Homo sapiens: one gene and its partner. The protein of the gene in region 2 purifies or fractionates together with the protein of the main gene of each other region. This does not show direct contact. Each region holds a gene or a part of one and is shown on either strand. Other genes may lie near its edges.

What was found. The genes of interacting proteins can lie anywhere in the genome.
Region 1: the proteins of DBN1 (region 2) and HOMER3 purify together in Homo sapiens (co-immunoprecipitation; 4 studies listed by BioGRID and IntAct, with this or other methods). This does not show direct contact.

The regions. Positions count from the first base shown.
Region 1 is NC_000019.10:18,937,955-18,945,417, forward strand, and holds the start of HOMER3 (homer protein homolog 3), read right to left. Parts: upstream 3,264-7,463; 5' UTR 3,097-3,263; intron 2,671-3,096; exon of another isoform or gene 1,897-2,670; intron 1,682-1,896; exon of another isoform or gene 1,096-1,681; 5' UTR 1,029-1,095; coding exon 1,015-1,028; intron 931-1,014; coding exon 774-930; intron 531-773; coding exon 399-530; intron 1-398. UniProt on the Homo sapiens protein: Postsynaptic density scaffolding protein. Binds and cross-links cytoplasmic regions of GRM1, GRM5, ITPR1, DNM3, RYR1, RYR2, SHANK1 and SHANK3.
Region 2 is NC_000005.10:177,470,630-177,478,175, reverse strand, and holds the start of DBN1 (drebrin), read left to right. Parts: upstream 1-4,541; 5' UTR 4,542-4,654; coding exon 4,655-4,740; intron 4,741-5,335; exon of another isoform or gene 5,336-5,400; intron 5,401-5,678; exon of another isoform or gene 5,679-5,965; coding exon of another isoform or gene 5,966-6,057; intron 6,058-7,546. UniProt on the Homo sapiens protein: Actin cytoskeleton-organizing protein that plays a role in the formation of cell projections. Required for actin polymerization at immunological synapses (IS) and for the recruitment of the chemokine receptor CXCR4 to IS.

The DNA of each region.
Region 1 (7,463 bases), on a different chromosome or scaffold from region 2:
GCCGAGGCAGGCAGATCATTTCAGGTCAGGAGTTCGAGACCAGCCTGGCCAACATGGTGAAACCCTGTCTCTAATAAAATACAAAAAATTAGCTGGGCGTGGTGGCGGACTCCTGTAGTCCCAGCTACTCAGGAGGCTGAGGCAGGAGAATCGCTTGAACCCGGGAGGCGGAGGTTGCGTGAGCCAAGATCACTGCAGCCTATCTCAAAAAAAAAACAGAAAAATGAACTAGGAATCAAACCGGGGAAGCTTAAAGGGGCTTCAGTCTCAACTCATCCTACAATCCCATCCTGCAGATGGGAAGATAGGGGACCTGCCCAAGATCCCAGAGTGAGCCCAGGAGAAGACTTGGGCCCAGTCTCATCGGTTCCCTCCACTCTCCCCCTCACCCGGCCCACCTGTGTCAGATGCTGTTCAGAGGCAAAGCCCAGGCCGTAGACTGTGTTGGCGCGACTGTCGGCCCACTGCCCGAACTTCTGGGAAGTTTTGGTGAAGGTCATGTTGGGAGTGACAGTGCTGTTGATGATGGCCTAGGGTCGGGGAACAAAGTTCAAGGTAGATGGGACAGATACTAACAAACATGAAACCCCCCAGGTATTACCTTGTATTAGGGTCTTGAAGGTCTTTACTCTGAACCCTTTCAGGAGATAGAGACTAGGGCCTGGGAAGGCTTAGGGTTTCCTGTCCCTTGGGCACACAGCAAGCCAGCCACCAGACCCAAGGTTGTCACCAGGACTCCTGGTGCCTCTGCCCCACCCAGACCCCACCCTGACCTTGGCGCCTCCGATGCTGATGATGCGGTACACATTGCGGGTGGCATCGTAGAAATAGGAGACAGTGAGTGCGTGCTTGCCCGCTGGGATCCAGTTTCGCTTGGTGGCTGGGTCAATTTGGAACACGTGCGCCCGTGTGCTGAAGATTGGCTGCTCCCTGCGTGGGGAGAGGGTGTTTGGTGGGGGCCAGGCACCCCCACTTAGAAAGCTCAGGGCCAGGCTGGGGGAGGTGGGAGCTCACCTGGCTGTGGACATTGGTCAGGCTGGGATGGGCAGGCTCTAGGGGGCAGCCAGAGAGGTGGCAGGAGCACTGGTTTGGCCCCTAGGGAGAGAGGAGGGACTATGAGTGTCCCTCAGGCCAGGCTGAGGGAGGCCAAGCAGGTTCCATCTCAGGACCCATCACCAGGTGTGCCCGTCATGGAACTTTCAATCAAAAAGGCAGGAGAGGCCCAAAGTACACCTGGTGCTTTGGGAGGCTGAGTCAGGAGGATCCTTTGAGCCCAGGAGTTCGAGACCATCCTGAGCAACATGGCGAGACCCCATCTCTACCAAAAATTTAAACAATTAGCTGGGTGTGGTGGCATGTGCCTGCCGTCCCAGCTACTGGGGAGGCTGAGGTGGGAGGATCACTTGAGCCCAGGAGGTCAAGGCTGCAGTGCAGTGAGCTATGGTCAGGCCACTGCACTCCAGCCTGGACAAGAGAGTGAGACCCTGTCTCAAAAAAGAAAGAAATTATAAAAAGAAACAAAAAGGTAAGATAATTATTATAGATAACTCAGAGCAAGCAGACCCCATCTTTCTTTGTCTAGGGGAAGCCCCCACAACACCCTGTACAGGAGATGGCCCTCTGAGAGGAGCCTGGTGGCCGCTGACATCCAGATGTAAATTTCTCATTGTCCTGGTTATTGCACCCCCGTGAAGTCCCCTCCATCCCAGGCTGAGCTGTGGAGGCCAAATCTCTGCTGAGTTCTTTCCACCACATTCACCCATGACTGGCCAGAGCGGGGCTCTCCACCAAAAAATGGGGCGTTGAGAGGTGTGTAGTACCAGGAGACCAGTTCCCCACTACACCCTGCAGAGGGACCCCACCCCCAGCAGCTCCCACCCTAGGGCAGAAGCACACCTTGAAGTCCAGAGTCCAAATCCCCAGGGAGCCCCCAGCCAAGTTAAAAAGACAAGATGTAGACAAACAGCCAATCCCAATGCCCACCATGAGGGCAGAGCAGAATCCACACTGGGAGACCAGGGCTCCCCAACCTCCCCATTGGGCCATTCAGCAACCCCGAATCTGCAGGGGACCAAGGAGGAGTTTGGAGGAGGGGGAAGACAGGTGGGGGAGGGGAGGCCCTGGCCCAGCGGCCTCTGTGGTCAAAGGGGGGATGCCCCCCCTATCCTGTCCTGGGCAGCTGCTGTCCTGGTCACAGGGTCTGAAACCGGAGCCCCTGAGTGGGGGTGGGGCGGCAGCTCTGGCCTGGACTGGGGGCGGGTCCTGCGCCGGGTGGGAGTTGGGGAACACAGGGGTCCCCGGAACCCAGGCCCTTCCGGTCCGGCAGCTCCTGCTGCGACTTGCAGCGTTTGGGGAAAGTTACTCACCAACTAGTCATGCGCCTCGGATGCCGCCGGCCACGGGGCTCCCGGAGGGGGGTCCGACACCGCCCGGTGCCCGGGATCCCCAATCTGGCCGGTGGATGAGGCCCCATCCCATGCACCCGAGTGCGGGGGACGGGGGGGTTAATATTAATTCAGGATCCCATCCCCACCCGAGGCAGGACACCCAGTGCACGCCCCAACTCCGGGACGCGGGCTCTGACCCTGGAACTTCCGAGATTCCCGCGACGCCCCCTGTCTCTGGGTCCAGAACTTCGGGGGACACCTCTTCTGCCTCCTCCAACCCCAGGTCGGTAACTCCGGGGACTCCCTTCGTGACTCCTCCTCTAACTGGGTCCGGGACCCCGGTCCTCCGCGTTGTCCTAGACTCCTAAACTTCGAGGACCCCCTGCCACCCCTCCAGTCCCTGGGTCCGGGACGTCCGGACCCCTCCCACCCCAGTACCCCACCCCAGGTCCGCAGCTTTGGGGACCTCTTCGCAGCCTCCTCCAACGCCGGGTCCAGAACTTTGGGAACCTCCCACGCAGTCCCCTCTCAGACCCTGAATCCAGAACTTCGGGACCCCCGCGCTCCCTCCAGCCCTGGAACTTGGGGACCCCTCGCGCCGCTCCCAGTCCCGGGTCCGAAACTTCTGGGGAACCCCCACGCCCTCCCCTTGGCCCTGGGACTTCGAGGCCCCCGCGCTCCCAGCGCAGGCTCGGCAGGCCGGGCTCACCCTGCCAGGTCGGCGCCCCGCGAGTGTCCAGGCGCGAGTCGGGTGCGGCCCCCGCGGCGCTGACTCCGCGCTGCCGGGCGCCCCGCTCGCTCCCTGGCTCCCGGGCCCGCGCCCTCCGCGCCGCCCTCCACGCCGCCCGTGCCTTTGTCTGCGCCGCCGCCGCCCGCGCCGCCTCCGGTCCCATCGCGGCCGGTCCCGACGCGGCCGCCGCCCGCCCCGCCTCCCCGGGCCGCCAAGGCCGCCCCGCTGCGCCCCCTGCCGGCTTTTTGCACTGGGAGAGGGTATGGGGGAGGGGATAAGGGGGAGGGGCGGGGGCCGGGACTGGGGAAGGGACGGAGGATTGAGGGAGGGGGTTAGGGGCGGTGGAGGGGGAGTGGGGGGGGGGGTTGCGTGGGGTCGGGTTGGGAGCAGAGGGTGGGGACAGAGAGACAGACGGAGAGGGACATCTGGGATGAGAAAGAGACCCAGAAACAGAGACACGGGGGAGACAGGCGGAGAGATAGGAAGCAGATGGAGAGAGTTGCACGGACAGCGATGTGACCTCACCCTCCTGTCACCTTCTCAGGAGACAGCTGCCTCTGTCCCCACTACCTGAGGTCATAACTTTGGGCCTGTGAGGGAGGTCAGGTCCCTCCCGGGCTGACATGGGTGGCCCAGTGAGGTTGGGGAGGGGGCAGTGGGTCTCAGGGTCTGCATACAGTAAGTGCTCAATGGGTGTTGCCAGGAAACGGAAGAGATCAACTTCGGGAGGGAACGGGAAGCAAGACAAAGAGAGAGAAGCCTCTGTTCCCCTGCCCGTCCCATCCCTAAGCAGGGACGTCTGTCCACCTCTGTCCCTCCCAAGACGATGGTAAAAATGCCCACAATGGTTGGATTAAGGTTATCTTTGCTGTTGTTTGAGGGTTCCAAAATCCAAAGGCTGAGGAAATGTCTCCAACGCATGGTTGCATCCCCTCAGCCTCCACTGGCCTGCGTTTGTCACCTCTGGTCACAGGGAGCACCCCCTTCCCACACTTGCCAGGAGAGCATCCTTCCGGAGTTGAACTAGGATCCACCTCCCCAGCCCCAAGCCCATGTGTCCCACTTGTCAATCCTGGTGCCGCCCCCTCTCTGGCACCGTCTCCAAAATCACACGGTGCGGCGCCGTTGGTTCGTTTGTGGACAGAGGTCCTGCAGCTCCCTGGAACCAAGGCCTGTGGCGCCCTAAAGCTCTGATCTTACATTTGAGTTTTTCTTTTCTTTTCTTTTCTTTTTTTTGAGACAAAGTCTCACTCTGTTGCCCAGGCTGGAGTGCAGTGGCACAATCTCGGCTTACTGCAGCCTCTGCCTCCCAGATTCAAGCAATTCTCCTGCCTCAGCCTCCCGAGTAGTTGGGACTACAGGTGCATGCCACCACACCTGGCTGATTTTTGTATTTTTAGTAGAGATGGGGTTTCACCATGTTGGCCAGTCTGGTCTCGAACTCCTGACCTCAAGTGATCTGCCCCCCTCGGCTTCCCAAAGTCCTGGGATTACAGACGTGAGCCACCACACCTGGCCGACACTTGAGTGTTTTGACAACTTCAGAGAGGCTTTTGCTTTTCATCTCCAAGACCTCTGCTCCTGTCTCCTTTCCCTGTTCCTTTATTTCTGTTTCCTTCTAAGAAGAATAGTATATCTGAGCTGGCGGTTACATTACATTCAAATTACCTTTAGGTGAATTCCAGGTCAGGTTGTTTTTGGAGATTGACTCCTGCGCCAAGATCTGAGTCTTCCCCCATCCAGGCCTTTGCCCAAACTGTTCCTTCCACCTGGAATGCCCTCGCTGCAGGCATCTCTTCTGCCTTGTCCTTCCAGGCTCAGCGCCACCACCCTGTCTCCTCCTCCAGGAAGCCTCTCTGACTACCCTGGCCTTGGAAGGGATCTTGCCCTCCCCTGTCCCAATCCCTGTGACTCTTTTTTTTTTCTTTTTTAAAGTTTATTTTTAGAGACGAGGTCTCACTATGTTGCCCAGGCTGGTCTCAAACTCCTAAGCTCAAGTGATCCTCCCACCTCGGCCTCCCAAAGTGCTGGGATGACAGGTGTGAGCCCAGACCCTTTCTGTGACTCTTATGTTACCTGTTTATTACATGACCAGGTCTGGGTGCTCCTCTAGGGCTGGCCCATCCATCCTGAAGCCCCAGTCTGACCCAGCACAAGAGCGACTGTTCATCCCACAGGGGAAACTGAGGCACAGACTCGGTTTCCCTGGCTGCTTCTAACTTCACGAGGCATCTGCACAAGGGAAGGATTTGGCTCTGTTCTCAGGCCGGAAGCCACGAAATGCTTGAACATTGTGGGGAGCAAAGAAAATACCGTCTGTTCTGTGCAAAAAATGACTTTTCCTTATTACCAACAAAATAATGGAAAAAATAAAAAAGTATCTGGGAAAGGTGCTGGCATGGCCAAGGCTTCTGGAAGCTGCTTAGAGTTTGCCAAGTGCACAAGTGGGGCCCTGTGGCTATTTTACAGGGGCGGCTGGGCGAGGGGCCCAGGCAGACTTTGCCCTTTGTGTGGGCAGAAAGCAACAGTGAAAGAGACAGTGAAGGGTTGAGTTGCTTTCCTGAACACCCTCTCCGGTCTCTGGGAGGGGCTGGGACAGGGCTGGCCTTGAGCAGCCCCAACCTGAAGCTGGACTAGCCAAGTCTACACTGAGGCACTGGCTTCCTCAGTGTGGGCCTCAGTTTTCTCACCTGGAAAATGGGCCGATGCTTGCAGGGCTTCTAGTAGAGGGAGAAACATGAAGGATTTAGTCAATATCAGCAGCTGTCCTCTGGGGTGCCTGCCATTAGGTTCGTGGGCAAAGGCCCTGCCACTCTTTGCTGCAGCTGGGAAAACAGAGTCTGTGTCTCAGTTTCCCTGCTGGGATGAATAGTCACTCTTATGCTGGGTCAGACTGAGGCTTCAGGATGGATGGGCCAGCCCTAGAGGAGCACCTAGACCTGGTCATATAATAAACAGGTAACATAAGAGTCACAGAAAGGGGCTGGGCTCATGCCTGTCATCCCAGCACTTTGAGAGGCCGAGGCTGGAGGATCGCTTGAGCTCAGGAGTTCGAGACCAGCCTGGGCAACATAGTGAGACCTCGTCTCTAACGAGGGCTGCCCTGAGCTGCTGCCCCCACCCCAGTCTGGGCCCTCTTCTTCCTAGGTCTGGAGGCCTCTCTTCTAAAGAACTGGGCTGGGTGCAGTGGCTCATGCCTGTAATCCTAGCACTTTGAGAGGCTGAGGCAGGCAGATCACCTGAGGTCAGGAGTTTGGGACCAGCCTGGTCAAAACATGGTGAAACCCCGTCTCTACTGAAAATACAAAAATTAGCCGGACGTGATGGTGCACACCTGTAATCCCAGCTACTCGGGAGGCTGAGGCAGGAGAATTGCTTGAACTCAGGAGGCAGAGGTTGCAGTGAACTGAGATCAGGTGACTGTACTCCAGCCTGGGTGACAGAAGGAGACTCTGTCTCAAAAACAAAAACAAAAAAGGGTGGGGGGGAGGGAGGAAGGAAGGAAGGAACAGACTTGAGATGTCCTTGCAGGGCAGGCAGAGGCCACCCCAAGGTGTCTGACTAGGAAAGCAACTTTCCTTTGGGGCTGAAAAATGGTGTGGGAGAATGAGCTTCCCACCTTAAAGGGGAAACCAAGCGGGAGCCTGAACAGCTCATTCAGCACTAAGAAAACTGCATTTGCAGAATGGCTTTTATGGCTCAGGCTCTGGTCTCTGCCTAGTTAGATCTGACCTAGCCTTTGGAGTGAGGCTAAACAGTCTCTCCTCTCCAGAGACTTTCTGTGCCACCAGAGCAGGGACAGTCCACCTGCTCTTCCCGAAAGCTGGGTGCCCACCTCCCAGTGAAGGTCTTGGTGACTACTTCAGGTCTGTTTATTGTTTATGGCATGATTTGGTTACTGTTCACCTCTTACATGGATTTGTCCCTGCACCTAGAACAAGCCTGACCTGTGACAGCTTTCTTTTTTTTTGGAGATGGAGTCTCACTCTGTCGCCAGGCTGGAGTGCAGTGGCACAATCTCGGCTCACTGCAACCTTCAATTCCTGGGTTCAAGCTATTCTTCTGCCTCAGCCTCCCGAGTAGCTGGGATTACAGGCACTCGCCACCACACCCAGCTAATTTTTGTATTTTTTTTTTTAGTAGAGACAGGATTTCACCATGTTGGCCAGGATGGTCTCAATCTCCTGACTTCGTGATCCGCCCGCCTTGGCCTCCCAAAGTGCTGGGATTACAGACGTGAGCCACCGCCCTTGGCCCCTGTGACAGCTTTCTATGAGCACTTTCAGGAGTAGGAGATCCCCAGGTTCCAGCTTTCGACTTGGCTTTCGGAATCACGTGAGCCAGGG
Region 2 (7,546 bases):
GGCCTTGGTACACACATAAGGTACACACACCATCCTCAGACTCTCCAGGTGGCCCTGCCACAGGAAGGGAGCTGAGGCCCTGGGCTAAAGGGCTGGCCACAGGTCGCCCTTTGAACTTGAGACTGCCTAAATCCAAAGCTGACCCTGAGACTGGAAGAAGAACCCCTCCCAACGGAGGCCTTAAAGGAAGGAGGGGAGGGGACCAGGGTTCCGGGGGTCATGGTGGAACAAGAACAAGCTCGCTGACTGACAGCCTGGGGGAACTCAGGACACCAGCACCAGCCACTTGGGAGATTGTGCGGGGGGAGCCACTTCTGAGCCAGTGAGGACCCCAGGACCAGCCTGGGCCCTCCCGCTCAGGTTTTTGGAGTACTGGAAGATCAACTGAGATTTCACCCAAGTTTCTTGCCACTGACAAAATGACCACTACTTGGGTACGAGGCAGATTAGGTAGGCCTCTCAGCTGCAATTCAAGCTAGTGTAAGCAAAAACGGGGATAATTGAACTGAAAAAGTGAATGGCTTCAGACCTGGCTGGATCCAGGTACCCATGGCGGCTACCGGGACCCTCTCTCATGCTCTCCACCTCTCGGCTCTGCTGTCCTCAATGCTGGCTTCATTCTCAGAAGGCTCTCCCCACTGTTGGCAAGGATGGCCCCCAGCAGCTCCAGGCCCATACCTGGCCAGCTCAGCAGCCCCAGCGGACAGAGGGAGCCTTTCTTTTCTTTTTTCTTTTATTTTTTATTTATTTATTTATTTTGAGATGGCGTCTCGCCCTGTGGCCCAGGCTGGAGTGCAGTGGTGTGATCTCAGCCCACTGCAACCTCCGCCTCCCGGATTCAAGCGTTTCTCCTGCCTCAGCCTCCTGAGTAGCTGGGACTACAAGCATGCAACACCAGGCCCAGCTAATTTTTGTATTTTTAGTAGAGACAGGGTTTCACCATGTTGGCCAGGATGATCTTGAGCTCTTGACCTCGTGATCTGCTCGCCTCGGCCTCCCAAAGTGCTGGGATTGCAGGCGTGAGCCACCGCTCCCGGCAAGGGAGGCTTTCTTAATGGCGCCAGCGAAAGTCCGAGGGCCAACGCCCATTGGACTAACTTGGGTCATGTGTCTGTCTCTGAAGTAGTCACTGGGTCTGACCCTTCCTGGCTTGGACGACATACTCCTGTTTAGAGCTGAAAGTGGAAAGTCTGCCAGAAAACGGGAGGCGGAGCAGGCCTGGCAGGGAGGTCCATGGCACTTCCTCCCCTCATGCCCAGGGCCCCGCCCCCGACTCCACTCCCAGACCTCAGAGCTGGAGCATCTGCAACTTCTGATCAGACTCCAGCCCACCTCACCCCTGCATGCAGAAATAGGGGTGCTACAAGGGGAAGCGGGGAGGGTGTGTGGGGTACCGAAATGACCTGGGACAGACCTGGGTTCCCATTCAGACTTTGTGTCTGAATGGGACACAAAGCTGTGTGTCTCCGGGCAAGTCACTGACTCTCTCTGGGCCTCAGTATTCCCATCTGTAAACTAATAATAACAATCAACACATTGACAGCACCTACTATGTCCTGGTCTCATTTTAAGCACTTCCTAGATACTTTTTGAAAATCCTCAAACTGACCCTAGGAGGTAGGTACCATCACTATCACCCCCATATTACAGTTGAAGATGAGTGATTCAAGATAGGTCAGGCACCAAGCTCAAGGTCACACCATTAGCAATAGACTCCTCAGGAGCAGAGCTAATGTGAATGAACGTGGCTGGCCCGGCGCCGGGGGCAGATACCTGGGAACAGCCATGAGCTTTGTGATGATCAAGGGGCAATCTGTGTGTGTGCTTGGTGGGATCTTGCAGAGGTTGGAAGAGGCCAGAGAAGACTCCACCAGCTCTTGCTGAAAAAGTCTTGCAGCCTCCCCTCAGCCCTAAAACCTTCCCGGAGAGGTGTGGGGGAGCACAGAACAGGAAGGTGGGGGTGGAGGGAGGAGGGTGGGGCTGTGAGGAGGGAGGGAGGGAGGGGGTTCTCCTTCTAAGCCTCCATCCAGTCCCATTTTATTCTCACAACAGGTTATCAAAAGGAAACTCAGAGAGGGGAAGTGTTTCAGCCAAGGTCACACAGCAAAGGCCCAGTTTCTGGATCTCAGTCCTCCCTTGTCTCATCTTTTCCACTCTGGGGATCCAGAAGTCATTGGCCCAGCCTCCCGCTGTGTGTAGGGGGAGCTCATGCTCTGGGGGTGGGAGAGACCGACCTGTCAGTGACTTGAAGGGTGATCGGTTTGGGGGTGGCAGACACGAAGTCCTGGTAGGAGGAACCCACCAGCCTCCCACCCACCAAGGCTGAGTGTGTGGGCTTCAGGGGCAACAGCAGCTGAAAGGAGGCAGGTTCTCAGAGGACAGTGACCAGTGGCCACCCACTCCCACCAGTCAGGGCAACTGAGAACTATGGGTCCACTGAGTTTGGCAAGTTAGGGGTTACTGGTGACCTTGGCCAGAGCAGTGCCAGAGAAAATGCGGGGAGGAGGAGACAGAGGACAGATGTCTGTCTGCATCCTATAGAAATGAGGGGATGAAGATAACCTGGAAGGGTGACGGGTGCGGAGACCAGGGGAGTGGGCTCTAGGGCATGCCAGCAGGGAACACCCTTGCTTCCCTGAAAATAGGGAAAACTGAGTGCAGGGTGTATGGGAACTCTCTATACTATCTTTGTAACTTTTCTGTAAATCTAACACTGTTCTAAAATAGAAAGTTTATTTAAAAATGTTGATGGCAAGAGGTGAGAGTGGGCGTGGCTGGAGAGTTTGTAGGTGGCTGGTGGGGAGGCAGGAATTTGAGGAAGGAAGAGCTTAGATGCATTTAGGGCTTCTGTTTTTTGGATGCAAAATTGAGTGTGCAGGAGGCTGGGGGGTGAGGGGAGCGGGGGGGGCGAGGAGCTGTGAGCTAGGACAAATCAAAGGAAGCTGGAAGAGGCTGAGGCCACAGATGCTCATGGCCAGCCATCTGCTGCCCCTCCCCGGCTGCAGGGTCTCCCTCCTCACCAGAATCAGGCTCTTCATGCCTAAGGGTGGGGGATGGCTGAAGCTCTGTCCCTCCATGGCTCTCCCCACTTCCCTTCCCCACCATGTGTCACCCACTCCCTTAGGGATCCCCATGGCAGGCCAACCACACCTACTGGCCAGTTGGTCTAGGGCACAGGGCCTGGCTGTGTCCCTGCCTGGGTGCCTCACTCTAGTGGTGGCCATGGAGAAATTGCCATGGCCTGTGGTCCCTAGACATAGTGGGCACTGACTTCCCAAGGCAGGGGCCTGTGAGTATTTTGAGTTTTAAGAGGGTTCTCCCAACTCCAAAGCGCCAGGAACACTGCCACATAGGCAGCCCTGCTCTCCTTCTCTTGGCATAGCCAATTACCCAACGCAGAACTCGGAGGCCTGGCTAGAACCACCTCCTCCTCCGCGGTGCGGTTGGGACCAGGTGAAGTTTGCTCAGGGAGGTCGAGGTTGGAGGCTTTGTAGTGGTGGAAAAGGCTTCTAAGCGCTGTGGACGGTTTCAGGGTCCCAACCTAGCAAGGAACGGAGTTCTGGAAGGCCCTGGCATGGTGTCCACTCCCTTGCAGGGGGTACTTTTCTGAGGCCCCCTCCCGTTCTGTGCTTAGAGCTTTAGGAGATAAAGGTGCCAAGAGGCTGGCCCTGAGCGTCCTTGGAGGAGCCCTGCCGTGGGAGTCTGGGGTTAGATGCTGCTTCCGGAACTCTACTTGGGACTCCTCTGGGAGGCGTGAGGCTTGAGAGAGAATGCAAAGGATCTCCTAGCTGGCCCCATCTGAGAGGGCACAGGCGTGGAGGGGAGGAGAGGCCTGGAATGGAGGGATAATGAGCTGGGTAGGGGCTGAGAATGGCCTGGAATAAGTGGTCATGGAGCCGAGATGGGGGGCTGTGGTTGGGAATTGGGAACTGGGATCAGGATGAGACTGGGATGGGTTGGACTGAAGATGTGCCGTGACACATGTTGGGGGGGACACGTGCTAAGCATGGGGCTGAAGCTGGGATGGGAAAGCAACTGGGGTGGATTTGAGGGTGGGATGCAGATGACAGTGGATATGATGGGATAGACTAGGCAAGGACCTCTCAGGGAAAGGAGACGGGCCAGGGGTGGGGTGTTGTGTGAGCTGGGTTGGGATGAAAATGGGTTTAACATGAGGTGGGACGCACCAGGAATGGAGATCAATGAAGCAATGGGTGGGGCGGAACCGGATTGGGACGGGGGGTGGGCGGGGGGAGGTGGGGACGGGACTGGGTTCGGGGCTGGAAGGAGGGCTAGCGCCGAGGTTACGGACGGGGCAGGTGAGGGTTCGGGACGTGGGTGGGGCTGGCCCTGGAGCGGCGCGCAGGGGCGGTGGGTGAGGGGCGCCCGGGGCAGGCCGGGAAGGGGGGGCGGGCCTCCCCCTGGGCCGGGCCGGGGCGGCGCTAGGACCGAGCGAGCGGAGGGAGCGAGCCGGGCGGAGCCAGCGCCCCCCGCCCCCCGCCGGCCGGCTCCCCTCCCCCGGCCGCTGGCTCGCTCGGCTCGCGACGCTGCAGAGGCTCCGAGGCGGCGGCGGCGACTCCCTCTTTCCCTCCCTCCTCCTCCGTCCGCCCGTCCGTCCGCGCGTCTGTCCGTTCGGCCCGGTCCGGCCCGAAGCATGGCCGGCGTCAGCTTCAGCGGCCACCGCCTGGAGCTGCTGGCGGCTTACGAGGAGGTGATCCGAGAGGAGAGCGCGGCCGACTGGTGAGCCCCCCGCCCCCGCCCCCGGCCCCTTTGTCCCCGCGCCGCCGCCGCGCCTTTGTTTCTCTCCCGCCCCGCCGCCCCGCCGCCGGGAAGGGAGGGGGACCCCGAAATGGTGCAGCGGGCCGGGAGGGCCGGGAGGGGCTGCCTTTGTGCGCGCCGGGGGAGGGGCCGGCGGGCCAGGCGGGGCACTGCCGGGCCCCGAGCGCCCGGAGGCGGCCCAAGGCGCGCGGTGGGAGCGGCGGCCGGACGCGGCCCGGAGGCGCGGGGTCCCGATGTGGGGCCCGGGGCCGCGTGGCCCTGCGGGAGCCCATCCCCCACCCTACCCCCCGGGCCCGGGGGACAGGTGTGCACGGGGCGGCCAAGGGCACCTTCGCCACCTTCGAGCGGGCGAGGTCCGGGCGGGGACGGGGCGGGGACCGAGCTAGCGGAGCCAGCGCAGCCTGCCCGGCTCAGCCCGGCCCGGCCACAGCACAAAGGAAAGCGAGGGCGGGGGAGGAGCGGAGCGGGCTGGGGGCCGGGCGCCCCGCCCACCGGGGGGCCTCTCGGAGTGGGCCGCCCTCCCCCCGAAACCTGGGCTGGAGTGAGGTGGAAGGATGTTTGCTGCCACATGGCGACCGCGAAGTGACTCCCTTACCGCCGCGGGTCGCGGAGGAGGCAGGGGTGAGCTCTCCTCCCCTACCTGAAGGGGACTGCGGGGACTAGGCAGCTGGGCTGGGGGGCACCGAGCTGCCTAAGGGGCCAGCTGAGATCCCTGGGAGGAAGCCCTCTGGAGAACAAGTGTGGAGGGAGCCCCCAAAGACGGCTGAAGGGGTGAACAGATCCACCGGCCCCCAGCAAGGGGCACTCGGTCCCTGATGGGGGAGGAGCTGGGCCGCCCCTCACCCCGCCCCCCAGCTGTTGTCTCCCGCTGAGCTGGGGGAGGGGATGGACCACCTGCTCTGGGGCTGGCGGCCCAGGGTGGTGGAAAAAGGAAACCGAGGGGTTCCTCACAGCCCCATCCTGGAATCCTTTAACCCCCCCGTAATACTCTTCTTCTAGGGAAGGTGCCCATCTGGTTCCTAGGCCTCCTCTCCCTGCTGGCAGATGGGAACAGGTTCTTCTTGAGGAAACTGAGGCAAAGAGGAGGGCAGGTCTGAGGGACCCCGCTTGGGCTGGCCTCACCCGCACACTGGGAGGGCAGCCAGGTGGGGACTCTGACCTGGGGGCTTCTGGAGGAGAGGATGAGATGGCTGGGCATCCATGGCATGGTACTGCAGCACTGGCCAGCAGCCAGGCCTGGAGGGATGGACGCGAGAGACAAGCTCTCGTGTCCTGCAGGTCAGTCACAGGAGAGGCCGGCACAGGCTCAGCAGGCAGGCGGCCCACCCATTGTCCCAGCCCTGCCCCAGGGGGGCTGAGATCATGGGAGGAGCTCTGGGCAAGTGGCCGGCTTGGCCTGGTGAAGGAGCTGGCTTTGGGATAAGGCCCCGCCTGGGGAGAAGCACAGCTCACCCCAGAACACCTCCTTTGCCCTCCAGCCTGGAGGGGTGTTGTCTACCAACACCCCATTTTCTCCTAAAAGCAGAGCTCTGGTGGCCTATTGCCAAGGCCACACAACCCCTGTTGCCCCACATCCTGCTCAACACAGGCCTGCCCCCACCCACCCCAGCAGCATCCGTGTGGCCAAAGCGAGTTATTCATCACTGGTGTGCGTCAGCCCCCATCTGGGTTGTGTGTGGGACACACACAGATGCACACATGTACCCTCGCACATGCACACATTCGTTCACTAAGGGCCCAGATAACATTTTGAAAAAGGGGTGTGAGGATCACTTTCTACACAAGAGAATATGAATACCCCAGGGCCCAGCATGGAACCAGGGGTGCAGTGAGGTCTGAAGACTCAGAGGCAGACCCTGCACATAGGTCCAGAGGGAGGGGTGTCTTGGGTAAATTGCTGTCTGCCCCCCGACCCTTACCTTGCCTCCAATGGGGAGGGGTGGTTGGGGGAGTTCACTCCTAGGTGGCAGGGCCTCTGAAGTGCACCACTACTCTGGCACAGGGAGCAGGGGACCCAGGAAATGAGGTTGTGTGGTGGGAAGGGCCACTGTTGTCCTGGTTGTGATATGACTCACTGTGATCATACACAAGTTCCTGGTCCTCTTGGAAAGAAAAGGGATTGGGCCCAGCACTACCTCGGATACTGAAGGCCTTTCTAGCACCACCATCCTGAGAGTGATGGTCCTGCGGGGTCCACCTGCCCTCAGCCCCCGACTCCAGCTCACCCTCCACCCCAGCTCACCCCCCATCCCAGCTCACCCCAGGGTCTCTGGAACTGCCACATTCCAGCTCCCACCTCACGCTAGTTCAGTTTATCTGGCTAGATGGCTTTTGAGTTGGTGTCAATATCACACATACTTCTGGTATGCGGTGTGCTGGACCCCAGGACCCAGAGAGCAGGATGTGCTGATTGACTGAGTCAGCGTTCCTGCCTTCACCAGGCTTACAGCTGGGGGCAGTGTCTGTCTCCAGGAGTTGGAGCTGGTGAGATGTGTAGATGCCTGGTCGCCTACCCCATCCTGATTCCCTGTGGTTTCGCCAGCTTCCACCTGGTGCACCACCAGGCTCGGGGTGCCTCTGATGTGGTTGAGAAGCACTGGTCTTTGTATTCCTGCTGGGATATGGTGGGTGCTCTGGGAGGGGCAGCTCAGGAGAGGCTGCTGGGGGCCAGCACTGGGCTCTGAAGAACGGAAGCATTCCACTGGGAATAGGCGTGGGGTAGAGGAGCAGGTCTTGCCTTCCACGTGAAGAGAACTACATAGGCAGA